Homo sapiens: one gene and its partners. The protein of the gene in region 1 purifies or fractionates together with the protein of each later gene. This does not show direct contact. Each region holds a gene or a part of one and is shown in the gene's direction. Other genes may lie near its edges.

Region 1 (3,500 bases):
GGATCCTGGTGGAAGGTCTCTACCTGCATAATCTCATCTTTGTGGCTTTCTTTTCGGACACCAAATACCTGTGGGGCTTCATCTTGATAGGCTGGGGTAAGACATTTATATCTCTGTTCCTTTCAAACTGGATGATGCATTTGATGACATTCTGTCATGCCCATCATTAGCATCCCTACAGCCATTTTCCTGAAACAATCCCTCCCATTCTTATTTTTTATCTCCCTTTTATTGTTCTATTCTTAGACAAAAATAATTAAGATCAAGTCTATAATTCTCCCAGTGGTGACAAACTTTTAAAGTTATTTGTGGATAGTGTTCTTAGGCCAGATTCTTGAGAGGATTCTTTGGAGGAAATATAAGAGAACTCATTGTAAGCCATACACATGTACAACTAAATGTCAGTGTTCTGCTTTATCAATAATTTCATCTTAAAATTTTTTATTTTTGAATTTCTAAGCTATAATGATATATTTTTGGTTTGTATTTCTAGGTCATATGATGAGAATGCCAGAAATGAATTTGTAGGACCATCCTGACTGTATTTAACAAATACAAATTACAAACTAATTATGTGGACTTACCATGTGTTTTAGAAGGAAATTATTCAAATTACTTCTGGCATAAGTAATTAAAAAAGTATTCAGTTCTCATTTCAAAAATGATTTAGCAGTACAAGGGGGATTACTGGATTAGACACTGACTCAACATGACATGGAGAAAAGAAATTGTTTGCTTGTTAAAAATTAAGGGAAATTAAAACTCATATGTGGTGAAAATTGAGAAGAGGTTGGAGATTAACAGTTGCAGATCTCAATTGCTATTTTAATATTTAAATTAGGAGGTGCTCAGCATAGGAAAAAAATTCACTAAGTAGCTCACGACTAAATTTGAAGGTTTTTTTCCTCTCCAAAATAAGAATATGCCTTTGCCTATTTTGCCTTAACTTTTTTTCTTAACAACTGAAATGTGAAGTAAAGAATGCTGAACTTTCTGCTAGCTAATTAATAACCTTTAAGAAGACAAAGAAAATCAATTTACTGTTAAACTTATTTATTATGAAATAATCATCACAATTAAAGTTGTATTTTTGTAGACAGCTCGTCTGTTTTAAGGCTCTTTCTTATCTTTGACTAGCAGTTACTGAAAATAAAAAAGATAATATTTTGCTTTTTTAGGATCCTTTGGAAATTTTCTTGACAATTTGTGGTAGTTTGCCTTCCTTCAAATCAAAATTATATCTGTGAACCCACATAATTATTAGGAGTTGGAAAAGGTGTTGATAGAAAATTCAATAATGAATGTAGACATTTGTTTATTTGGGTTATATTTTATTTTTCAAATTTCTTCATCATTGCTTACATTTTTAATAAATTCTTTTTTTCTCTTTATTTATGCCTTGATAGCTACCTGGTGCAAGCCTCCTTATTAACTCTTTATTTGGGCTTTATCACTCAGTCTGTCTCTCCTTACAGTTAGGAGTTTGTCCCACCGAATCTCAGAAAACACAAATCTTTCTATGAAAAAGAGAATGTGAAGAAAAGCTAAGGTGCTAGTGAGCTTCTATGCAAGTATGGTTTCTTACCTTCCTTTACAGCTTTTATTAATTTGCCCACAAAAGTTTAGGCATAGAAATGACAACTACAATAGAAATCTTCATTTCGTGAAATAGTTTGAGAACACACATGAAAACCGGTTGACTTTTCATGGAAACTGTCTGTGAACGCATTTTACATGCCACATTTTGCTCACTTAATTAGCCACAAGTCAAAAGAGTAATAACTATTCTTCATGGAATTATGGTTCTACAGCTAGTCTGTCTTCTGACTTTCTCTTTGCATTTCCATTCTTTAAAAATATACTCTAGTCTAGGGCATATATAATGAAAATAATAGTAGTATTCTTTTAAGATTCTCTGCTCCTAAAACACAGCTATCACTGAATGAAGTACATATCAAAATCTGTTTGATTTATGGATTGTCTTTCTCTTATCTCAACACTGAGAGACTGATTTAAAAACATTATTTATATATCTGACTCATTTTTCTAAATTCATTTTCTAAATGATCAAAAACATTATATATGCCTTGCAGGATACTTTGCTAGAATAACTGAGAGCGAGTCCAATTTTATACTTACTTCCAATGATGCCATTTACTGGCTTCATTAGAGCAGAGAACTTGCTTAAATTCCTTTGTTACTCATTTGGACCCAAATGTTTATAACTTTAAGCTCTTTTCAGCTAGATAAATACTCAGAACTCTGTTAGTCACATTGTAGTAATGTGTGGAGTTACACTTATATTGATTGTGATGATCCTTTTCTTTTTAAATGTTTTATTATTTTATTTCTTATTATTTGTTAGAGATGTGGTCTTATTATGTTGCCCAGGCTGGTCTTGAACCCCTGGCCTCAAGCAATCCTCCTGCCTCGGCCTCTCAAAGTGCTGGGATTACAGATGTGAGCGACCATGTGCAATCTGATTATGATGATTCTTAAAAATAAATTGGAAGGAGGCTGGGCGCAGTGGCTCACGCCTGTAATCCCAGGACTTTGGGAGGCCGAGGCGGGCGGATCATGAGGTCAGGAGATTGAGACCATCCTGGCTAACACGGTGAATCCCTGCCTCTACTAAAAATACAAAAAATTAGCCAGACGTGCTGGCAGGCGCCTGTAGTCCCAGCTACTCAGGAGGCTGAAGCAGGAGAATGGCGTGAACCCAGGAGGTGGAGCTTGCAGTGAGCTGAGATCGCGCCACTGCATTCTAGCCTGGGTGACAGAGCGAGACTCCATCTCAAAAAAAAAACAAAAAGAAAAATAAATAAATAAATAAATAAATAAATAAATAAATAATAGGAAGGAAAGGAAATGACAATCTGAAGAAGAATAGGTGTCATATCTGACCTTTACTAAATTAAGGACAAATATTTAAAATAACTGTTTTTACATTTTATTATTATAAAACAAGATGCATAGAGAATAAAGGTGAATACTAATGATAACTGTTTCTTTTCATTCAACCAAGCACATTATTATTTTCCCCATCCTTGTCTCAGTTTTCCCATAAATAAGGTGCTTTATTCTTAGTTCCATTTTATTTCAACTACACATTTTCCTCTATTTTAATTCTGTATGTAAAAGGTATCTCTTTTTTTTATTGTTACTAAATATGGTAATTTGCTTCTATATTAGTAGCCATCCTTAATTTTCAACTGTCAGATGAAACACCAGTATGTACATATCATCATATAAAACCACCTATCCTAGTAATACCATCTTACATAGAATATTTTCACATAATATGTTCCCTGAAAATAATCAGGAAACAGTCCCACACTCCCATTTTATTCCCTTTGTAAAATATCTTAATCCAGCAAACATTTTTTGATCATCCACTTGGCAGTAAGTGTTTAAACACAGAGACAGGTGTTAAAGTCTCCCACACAAGATGCATGCACTCTGACCCTTTAGGTTATTTTGTTTGTTTTCTTGTTGTGATC
Region 2 (3,500 bases), on another chromosome or scaffold:
AGCACTTTGGGAGGCTGAGGCAGGTGGATCACTTGAGCCCTGGAGTTCAAGATCAACCTGGACAACAAAGCAAGATCCCATCTCAAAATTAAAAAACAACACCAACAACAAAAAAACAGTGGCTTAGATGCCTGATCATTAGGGTAAGTCGTGTCCTCAACCCCTTCACATCTGCTCTGAAGGTCACCATATCCGGAAGCCTTCCCTGGCCTCCTTGTTTAAAATGGCACAGCCCCCACTCCACGCCTGGCACTCTCTGCTGTCCCTGATTCGTTTTCTCCATACAGCTTATCTTTGTCTGATATGTGACATAGTTAACATTTTATATTTGTCTTTCTTTCCTAGTTAGAATCTGAACTCTAGAAGGGCAAGGGCAAGGATTTATAACTCAAAGGTTCCGGGCTTAGGCCTCTTTTATATTCTTGATTTTGAGGTTAATTAAGAGCTCAGGCCTAGCGAGGTGGCTCATGCCTGGAATCCCAGCACTTTGGGAGGCCCAGGCGGGCAGATCACTTGAGGTCAGGAGTTCCAGACCTGCCTGGCCAACACAGTGAAAAACCTGTCTCTACTAAAAATACAAAAATTAGCCAGTTATGTTGGCAGGCGCCTATAATCCCAGCTACTCAAGAGGCTGAGGCAGGAGAATCGCTTGAACCCAGGAGGCAGAGGCTGCAGTGAGCCAAGATCGTGCCACTGCACTCCAGCCTGGGCAACAGAGCGAGACTCCATCTCAAAAAAAAAAAAAAAATTAAGAGCTCAAAGAGTTTGTTTTCATAGGCAGCAGAATGAGAAAAGTTTACAAAATAGTTTAAATGACAATAAAGTCATTATAGATTAACATAAATAAAATACCTTTTATGAAAAAAATAATCATTTTCTGAAATCAGACAAAACATTGTGAATGAGAAGGTGGCATGGTTTTATTTTTTTGCAAGTCTCCGAAGCCTGGCTGGATAGAAGAGCCTGGCTTCTCAGAGCTGCTTCAGTCTGTTGTGATATCTATTGTATGTCACGTAGCCTCTGGAAAACTCCACAGTTAGTATTGTTGGGAAAATAACTTTGACCTCAGGATCTCCTGAAAACGTCTTGGGGAACCCCAGGGTCTAGAGGCTGCAGTTTGAGAACTGTTGCTGTGGTATCCCAGGTGTCTCAAATACTGCCTAGAACATAGGTGGTACTCAGTAATTATTGTTGAAGGATGAATGAATGAATGAATGAATGAATGAATGAAAGAAAGAAAGAAATGTGTCTTTGAATCCAGCCATGTGCCCAGAATGATGAGACAGATGACAAAAGCTAAGGGACTTTAGCATGAGGAGAGGGGGTTCGTTTCCTTTTTTTTCTTTTTTTTTTGAGATGGAGTCTCACTCTACTGCCCAGGCTAGAGTGCAGTGGTGCAATCTCAGCTCACTGCAATCTCTGCCTCCTGAGTTCAAGCAATTCTCCTGCCTCAGCCTCCAGGGTAGCTGGGACTACAGGTGCGTGCCACCATGCCTAGCTAATTTTTTACATTTTTGGTAGAGATGGGGTTTTACCATGTTGGCCGGGCTGGTCTGGAACTCCTGACCTCAAGTGATCCACCTGCCTCAGCCTCCCAAAGTGTTAGGATTACAGGTGTGAGCCACCATGTCCGGCCAAGAGGGTGTTCATTTCTGCTCCTTGCCAGGTATTGTGTCAGGCACTGGGGACCCAGCAGTGGCTGAGACAGACAGGGCTCTGCCTCACGGAGCCCACATTTTCACCAGGCAAAGGATGGTCGGCCCCTAAGCTGGGAGATAAGACTTCAGCAGTTGGGTGGGGGAGCCGTGGGAGAAGCCCAGCCCACAGGGGGACAGTGCAAATCTAGAACCAAGGCGATGGCAGGGGTGAGGCTGGCACGGTAGCTAGAGACCACGTCGTGCCAAGGGCCTTGGGGACCATGGGACTATGGGACCTTAGGGAAGGCGTCTGGAATGCTGTAGCCAGACACTGTTGCAAGGAGGATTTTTCTGTAGACATGAGGCCTTCCTTATGAAGAAAGCAAGGGTTCTTTCATTCCTGGGGGTGCCAGGTGCTGTGGACTGCAGCACGCGTGGTTGCTGCCGTCACAGAGCTGTCATGCAGGAGGGCAGCGCGTCCTTGGGAAGGTGGCAGGCAGGTCAGGCTAGGAGGAAAGAGGCCGGGAAGCTGAGGGCATTTCCTGCCCGAGATGCCCAATGTAGCCTACTTCTGTCCCCAGTGGCTTAAGGCAGAGTTGCCTGGTAGGTGCCCTGGTCCCACCCTGGTGAAAGGCTGAAGGTATTTAATTAGTGCCTGAGAAGCAGAGAGGAAACAGGATGTGCCAAAACACTTTGATGGATGGTAGAGTTAACAGGCTCCTTGCCTGCAGCTGCTTCAGACAAGAGCGTCCCCAAGCCCTGGGCCTGACCTGGAATGTGGGGATGGAAGGGGAGGGGGAGGAACCAAGGCACTGGGAGGGTAAGTCTCTCTCTCCCACATAGACACACCCACTCCTTATGGGTGCCTGGGCATCTCCTGGTACCTAGAATCTGGCCTGTTTATCTCCACACCCATCCCTGGGGTCTACACTAGGCCCTGTGGGTGGCAGTTCACATCAGGGGAGTTCTGACTTTGGCTCTGAGAGGTGGTTCAGAGATGGCTGTAAGTTGAGAAGCACAGACTGCTGGGTGTGGTGGTTCACGCCTGTAATCCCAGCACTTTGGGAGGCTGAGGTGGGGGTGGATCACCTGAGGTCTGGAGTTCAAAACCAACTTGGTCAACATGGCGAAACTCCATCTCTACTAAAAATGCAAAAATTAGCCAGGTGTGGTGGCAGGTGCCTATAATCCCAGCTACATGGGAGGCTGAGGCAGGAGAATTGCTTGAATCTGGGAGGCGAAGATTGTAGTGAGCCGAGATTAGTTCGCACCATTGCATGCCAGCCTGGGCAACAAGAGTGAAACTCCGATTCAAACAAAAAAAAAAAAAAGCTGGGCATGGTGGAGTGCCTGTAGTCCTAACTACTCAGGTGGGAGGATTGCTTGAGTCCAGGAGGTTGAAGTTGCAGTGGGCTATAATTACACCACTGCACTCCAGCCAGGGCCACAGAGTGAGACCCTGTCTCTAAAGAAAGAAAAAAAAAAACAACCTCAGGCTCCGAGGGCACCATTACTGCTCTATACTGAAGAGCTGTGCAGCTTTTCCAGACCCGAAATGTCATCCACAAAACAGAAGTGATAATGGTCCTGCCTCACAGACTTCTTGCAGTAGTCCAGGTGTTTAGAACGGGGTGTAAAAGGCCGTGTGCCCTTGGTAGGAATCTTTGCATATGCATTTGATCATCTGCAGCCTGCCCAGCCCACTGCTTGCCCCCTCCTGGGTGTGCTGGGAAGGGGTCTTTGGCCCTCCAGGGGTTAGGTGCCCCAGCCTCCAAGGTGCCCTCACGCCTTTTCATCCCGACTCAGATGCTGACCTGACCTTTGACCAGACGGCGTGGGGGGACAGTGGTGTGTATTACTGCT
Region 3 (2,983 bases), about 78 Mb from region 1:
GATCACACCACTGCACTCCAGCCTGGGGGACAGAGCGAGACTCCGTCTCAAAAAAAAAAAAAAACTAGCCAGGTGGGCATGGTGGTGGCGCCCATCTGTAGTCCCAGCTACTTGGGAGGCTGAGGTGGGAGGATCGCCTGAGCCTGAGGGGGATGTTGCCGTGAGCCAAGAGCTTGTGACTGGACTCCAGCCTGGGCAACAGAGCAAGACCCTGTCTCAAAAAAAAAAAAAAAAGAAAAACCGCTAGCAATGGAGATGGGAGGAGGCTTCAGAGCCCAGAGAGCAGCAAGGGTTACACAGGGGGGTAACAAGGGTTACAGCAGGAGGGGGGTCGGCAGAGCCCCACACGTGTGAGCTGGGGCAGTGGGAGGGCGTGGGTGAGGCAGAGCGCTGTCCAGGTGCTGGTAGGCCGGGGGCGGGAGGAGGCAGGTGGGGGGGCACGGTCAAGATGTATGTGAGGGTTGTGGCACTGGAAATGCAGGCATAGAGGGGCCAGGAGGATTAGGGGGTGCTGTGTGAGCGAATGGGGGCTCCGAGAGAATTTACCCAAGGACAGGAGTGGCCTGGAGTGCTGGGACCCTCAGGGTCATTTGTTCCTTGAGGGCTCTGTCCTGGAAGCATAGCCCAGGTCCTGTAGGCTGGGTGGCAGAAAGCCAGGACATGAGGGCACCGAGGCCCTGTGGAGATAGAGTGGAACCTGAGGAGGAGGTGGAGGGGAATGGGGCAGATGTGGGGCCACACCAGGAGTGTGCTGCTGAGTGAGAAGCAGAGGCCACAGATGGAATGCTGAGAGCTCTCTGAGGCCCACATGTTACAGCATCTGACCACACAGAGCTCCGGCTGCCCTGGTAATGGCAGAATCTGGGGTGGAGGACATAAGGGGGGTTGTTGGAGTGATCCGGCTGGGGGGCATGGAGGCCATAGGTTTCCCACAGGACTCGGGTGTGGAGTTCTCCAGGCTGTGGGCCAGGCCCTCTCAAGCTTGCCTCTGAGCTGCAGCAGGCACCCTGGGTCCTCTGGATGCCTGTCCCCCAGCCATCCAGACAGCCTGTGGGGACAACCACCACCAGATTCACTCATACCCACAGGGAAGGGGAAATAGAAAACCCCAGAAGCACAGAGGGGCAATGCTTGTCTTGGTGAGAGTCTGGAGTCATTGAGGGAAAAATAAATTCAGTCAAGCGTTCTATTTAAGTTTAGAGAAACTATACGTTTTAAAAGTTGTCCAGAGCATGCATGTAAGATGACGTTTGGAGTGTGGAAGCCATCTCACCTGAGCTGTGCTGCCTGATACAGGAACCTTGAGCCACACATGGCTGGCATGGTCATTGCACTGCGTGTGGTATGCACAGCAGATGCCAAATGACCGGTACAAAAGGGAATGCAAAAAACCCACCACACCTTGGGAGTCCACAGCTACTGGATCTCTTGAGCTCAGCAGTTCAGGACTAGCCAGGGCAACACAGGGAGACCCAATCTCTACAAAACACAAAAATTAGCAGGGCATGGTGGCACACATCTGTAGTTCCAGCTACTTGGGAGGCTGAGGTTGGAGGATTGCTTGAGCCTGGGAGGTTGAGGTTGCAGTGAGCTGTGACTGCACCACTGCACTCCAGCCTGGGTGAGAGAGTGAGACCCTGTCTCAAAAATAAACAAAAAACCCCAAAGTGAATGAGGCTGGGCATTGGTTCACACCTGTAATCCCAGCACTTTGGGAGGCTGAGGCAGGATCATCACTTGAAGCTCGGAGTTTGAGACCAGCCTGGGCAAAATAGCAAGACCCCACCCATTTCTACAAAGAAACAAGAAAAAGAACAGAGGTGAATGCAACATCTTATGAATAACTTATGTACTGATTACGTATTGAAATAATACGTTGGATATTTTAGATTAAAGTATTTGAGCTAATTCTGCATTTTCTTTTACTTTTTATTTATTTATTTATTTTTGAGACAGTCTTGTTCTGTCACCCAGGCTGGAGTGCAGTGGCACACTCATAGCTCACTGCAGCTTCAACCTCGTGGGCTCAGACAATCCTCCCACCTCCTCTTGAGTAGCTGGGACTACAGGTGCACACTACCACACGTGGCTAATTTTTTAATTTTTTGTAGAGATGGAGGTCTCACTGTGTTGTCCCAGCTGGTCTCTAGCTTCTGGCCTCAAAGGATCCTCCCGCCTTGGCCTCCCAAAGTAGTGGAATTACAGGCATGAGCCACTGACCCCTGCTGAGCCAGGCTGTTTTCAACATTCAATGGTCATTGACTATCTTTGGCGTTTAGGAGGGCCCTCCAGGGACCAGGCGTAGGGGCATCAGTCACCCCGCCCTCACACCCCAACCTGCAGCCACACTTGGTTCAATCCCACTGTCTAGCCCGTCTGACTCAGTAGCCCCTCCCGAGGGAGCAGGGCTAAGCAAAGCTGGTTTCCCCACTGCAAGGCACTGCAGGCCATTCTATTCTGGGCCTTCTCATCCTTCATAAAGTGAGGAGGCCTGAACAGGGCTCCCCACTAACCCTGAGAGCGCACAATTCCTGAAGATTTCCAGGATTTTCTTAGTATCAGTTATGGCTTAAAGTTATGTTGGTTTCACATTTCCAGGGTTTGTCAACCCTGTCAGATTTAAAGATAAGCATTATTAGCCAGGTGTGGCCCCATGCTTGTAGTCCCAGCTACATCGGAGGCTGAGGCAGGAAGATCCCTCCAGGCCGTGAGTTTGGGGCAGCAATGAACTGTGATTGCATCACTGTGCTCTAGACCAAGTGACAGAGCAAGACTCAGTCTCTAAACCCCCCTCCCCCACCACTCAAAAAAAAAAAAAAGCATTATTTGCTCTTTTCTGCTTCCCTCTCATCCTTGTTTCCAGAAGGGACTGGGTCATTGCTGAGGGGAGGAGAGGAAGCTCAGATGGCAGCAAGCTGAAGGGAAGCCGACTCTGAGTCAGGCCCAAGTCTGCGGCCTGCCATGCTGCGTGCTGTGGGGAGCT
Region 4 (3,500 bases), on another chromosome or scaffold:
GGTTTCTGGCTACCAAGTTAAAGAGGGTGACAGAGTTATATAATTCTTATTATTGGAAAGGAGCAAACCTTTCTTAACATTGAGCTCTAAAACAAATTTCCTACCTGTATGAGAGGCTTTGAGTGATAGGGTGGACATTATACTGTACACCATTCCTACGGCAAATAAGGTAATATTAATACTGTTTGACAGTCTTTTTTTTTTTTTTTTTTTTTTTTTTGAGACGGAGTCTCACTCTGTCACCCTGGCTGGAGTACAGTGGCACGTTTTCGGCTCACTGCAAACTCTGCTCCCGGGTTCAAGAGATCTCCTGCCTCAGCCTCCCGAGTAGCTGGGATTACAGGCGACTGCCACCACGCCCGGCTAATTTTTGTATTTAGTAGAGACGGGGTTTCACCATGTTGGCCAGGGGCCAGGTTGGTCTCAAACTCCGGACCTCAGGTGATCTGCCCACCTCAGCCTCCCAAAGTGCTGGGATTACAGGCGTAAGCCACTGTGCCTGGCCTTAGTTTCTTATGAAATTCACCTGATAATAATGATAAGCCCAACTTGGTGATGCCAGCTCTGTTCAGAGCTGAGATAATGCCCATCTATGTGGCCATCTGTTCTTTAGCTTAAATTCAGGGATAGAGCTCTTGGCCTTTTGACTGGTCCAGTAGAGCAGGCATTTCGAGATTGTGCTGTCAGGTGAGGGCCTGAACTGCTGTTTGCTGGGTGACTGGTTGAAGTAGTTGTCTATGCTACAGAGAAACTAAGTGACAGTTGGTCTGAATGACATGATTTGGGGAAAATTAAGGTGTCTAAGTAGGCGAGTTCACTGGATAGAGAACGGTAGAAGCACCTGCAGGCAAGGCCAGAAACATCTTGACATCTACTTCAATTAGAAAGTATTGATCAGCTTTTTGTTCACTACTTATTAAGATTTAAATTTACTGCCAAAGGTGTGCTAAGACAGGCACTTTTGTATATTGCTGGTGGGAGTATAAATTGGTAATAAACTTCTTAGAAAGCAGTTTGGCAATACATTTCAAGAGCCTTAAAAACATTCATGCCATTTGACCTAGTACTTCTACTTCTGGGAAAATGTCCCAAGGAAATAATCCTTTTTTTAAAAAAAGGTCTAAGCCTCGAATTTTGAGTGTTATTTGTAATGCTTCATTACTTCATTTATAGTATCAAGAAATTCGAGGCAATTTAAATGTCCCACAGAAGGAGAATAAACAAACATATTAACTCAAAGGAATATCATGATTTAAGCTAAAATCTTTTGAAGAAGAGAAGGAAAATTCTTAAAATGTTAAATGAGAAAAGCAAAAACAATATAAACAGTAGAAGTTAAACTGGTTTAAAATATGCTTAGAGGAAAAGACTGGTGAGAAATACACTAAATAAATCGTTGTGTGTGTGTGTGGATACTAAAGCATTTTTAAGAAAAACACTGTTGACCAGGTGTGGTGGCTCACTCACACCTGTAATCTCAGCACTTTGGGAGACCGAGGCAGCGGGTGGATGACCTGAGGTCAGTTTCAGATGACCTGAAACTCCGCCTCTAACAAAAATACAAAAATTAGCCAGGCATGGTGGTGCATACCTGTAATCCCAGATACTCAGGAGGCTGAGGCACAAGAATCACTTGAACCTGGGAGGCGGAGGTTGCAGTGAGCCAAGATTGTGCCACTGCATTCCAGCCTGGGCGATAGAACAAGACTGTCTCAAAAAAAGAAAAGAAAAGAAAAACACTGTTAATTTATGTATGGCATTTTTGAAAGGGAGACAAATACAAATTTATATTCCCTAGAGAAGGGTGATTTATAGTGGAGAGGGAATAATTAATAAACCTGTGTTCAGCTGAATTGCAGTTTTTGCCCCTAGACCTTCTAGTTCCATTTGTTTAAAGTTACTCTTAGCGCCTGTAATCCCAGCACTTTGGGAGGCTGAGGCGGGCAGATCACGAGGTTAAGAGATCGAGACCATCCTGACCAACATGGTGAAACCCCGTCTCTACTAAAACCACAAAAATGAACTGGGCATGGTAGCGCGTGCCTATAATCCCAGCCACTCGGGAGGCTAAGGTAGGAGAATCACTTGAACCCAGGAGGCAGGGGTTGCAGTGAGCCGAAATTGCGCCATTGCACTCCAGCCTGGGCGACAGGAGTGAAACTCCATCTAAAAACAACAACAACAACAACAAAAAGTTACTTTAGCTGGGCATGGGGGCTCACGCCTGTAATCTCAGCATTTTGGGAGGCCAAGGCAGGAGAATTGTGTGAGCTTAGGAGTTCGAAACCAGCCTGGGCAACATAGCAAGACGTTGTCTCTACAAAAACTTTAAAAAATTACCTGGGCAGGCCGGGCGCAGTGGCTCACGCCTGTAATCCCAGCACTTTGGGAGGCCAAGGCAGGCGGATCACAAGGTCAGGAGATCGAGACCATCCTGGCCAACATAATGAAACCCCATCTCTACTAAAAATATAAAAATTAGCCGGGCATGGTGGCTTATGCCTGTAACTCCAGCTACTCGGGAGGCGGAGGCAGGAGAACCCCTTGAACCAGGGAGTTGGAGGTTGCAGTGAGCTGAGATCGCCCCACAGCACTCTAGCCTGGCGACAGAGCAAGACTCCGTCTCAAAAAAAAAAAAAAAAAAATTACCTGGCACACCGTGTGGTCCCAGCTACTTGGGACGCTGAGGCGAGAGGATGGCCTGAGCCCAGGAGTTTGAGGCTGCAGTGAGAGATATGATGGCGTCATGTACTCCAGCCTGGGTGACAGAGTGAAATCTGGTCTCTTTTTTTTAAAAAAAGAAATCCTTTAATTCTCAGTTCTTTTCTTTTTACTTTTTGTTTGTTTGTTTGTTTGAAATCAAAGAAATCAAAGGCTTCCTCTATATGGGTGCTTTCCTTACAGGTGCCTAGGTAGTTATTGCTTCAACCTCATTAATCCCCCTCTCCCAGCAAAATGAAACTTAACATGTTAATAAGCAAAATATGATTTTCAAAATAGGTCTATTATAATAGAAATATGGAAGAGTACAATTCTGCCATTTTCCTAAATATTAAACATTATTTTACAAGAATGGCTTAAAACATAAGCCTTGTTTTGCAGTATATGAGCTTTCCATCTTCAATATATTTTTTTTTTTAAATTGGTTTCTAGAGGAAATCCACAACTGCATATTGTCCCATCTAAGTGTGATCTGGCTAAATATATTCACTAAATGTTTGACTTACTAATTAGCTCTGTTAGCTGTATTACACAATTATATAACCAGGTTTTATAATTCATTTATACATTTATTTATGTATTTATTTACTTTTACTCATTTATTCTGAGACAGGACCTCACTCTGTCACCCAGGCTGGAGTGCAGTGGCATGATCACAGCTCACTGCAGCCTCAACCTCCCAAACTCAAGCAATCCTCTTGCCTCAGCCTCCCTAGAACTGGTACTAGAGGCGTACGCTACCATGGCGAGCTAATATGTTTTTTATTTTTAGTAGAGAC

Evidence for each region. Proteins that work in one complex are often made in the same cells at the same time.
Region 2: the proteins of PTH2R (region 1) and LSR purify together in Homo sapiens (affinity purification with mass spectrometry; one large-scale study listed by BioGRID and IntAct). This does not show direct contact.
Region 3: the proteins of PTH2R (region 1) and MZT2B purify together in Homo sapiens (co-immunoprecipitation; 2 studies listed by BioGRID and IntAct, with this or other methods). This does not show direct contact.
Region 4: the proteins of PTH2R (region 1) and HACD2 purify together in Homo sapiens (affinity purification with mass spectrometry; one large-scale study listed by BioGRID and IntAct). This does not show direct contact.

Annotation. Positions count from the first base shown.
Region 1 is NC_000002.12:208,444,792-208,448,291, forward strand, and holds part of PTH2R (parathyroid hormone 2 receptor isoform 1 precursor), read left to right. Parts: coding exon 1-96; intron 97-3,500. UniProt on the Homo sapiens protein: This is a specific receptor for parathyroid hormone. The activity of this receptor is mediated by G proteins which activate adenylyl cyclase. PTH2R may be responsible for PTH effects in a number of physiological systems.
Region 2 is NC_000019.10:35,255,502-35,259,001, forward strand, and holds part of LSR (lipolysis-stimulated lipoprotein receptor isoform 2 precursor), read left to right. Parts: intron 1-3,443; coding exon 3,444-3,500. UniProt on the Homo sapiens protein: Probable role in the clearance of triglyceride-rich lipoprotein from blood. Binds chylomicrons, LDL and VLDL in presence of free fatty acids and allows their subsequent uptake in the cells.
Region 3 is NC_000002.12:130,185,262-130,188,244, forward strand, and holds part of MZT2B (mitotic-spindle organizing protein 2B), read left to right. Parts: intron 1-2,983. UniProt on the Homo sapiens protein: Required for the recruitment and the assembly of the gamma-tubulin ring complex (gTuRC) at the centrosome.
Region 4 is NC_000003.12:123,529,554-123,533,053, reverse strand, and holds part of HACD2 (very-long-chain (3R)-3-hydroxyacyl-CoA dehydratase 2), read left to right. Parts: intron 1-3,500. UniProt on the Homo sapiens protein: Catalyzes the third of the very long-chain fatty acids (VLCFA) elongation four-step cycle (condensation, reduction, dehydration, and reduction).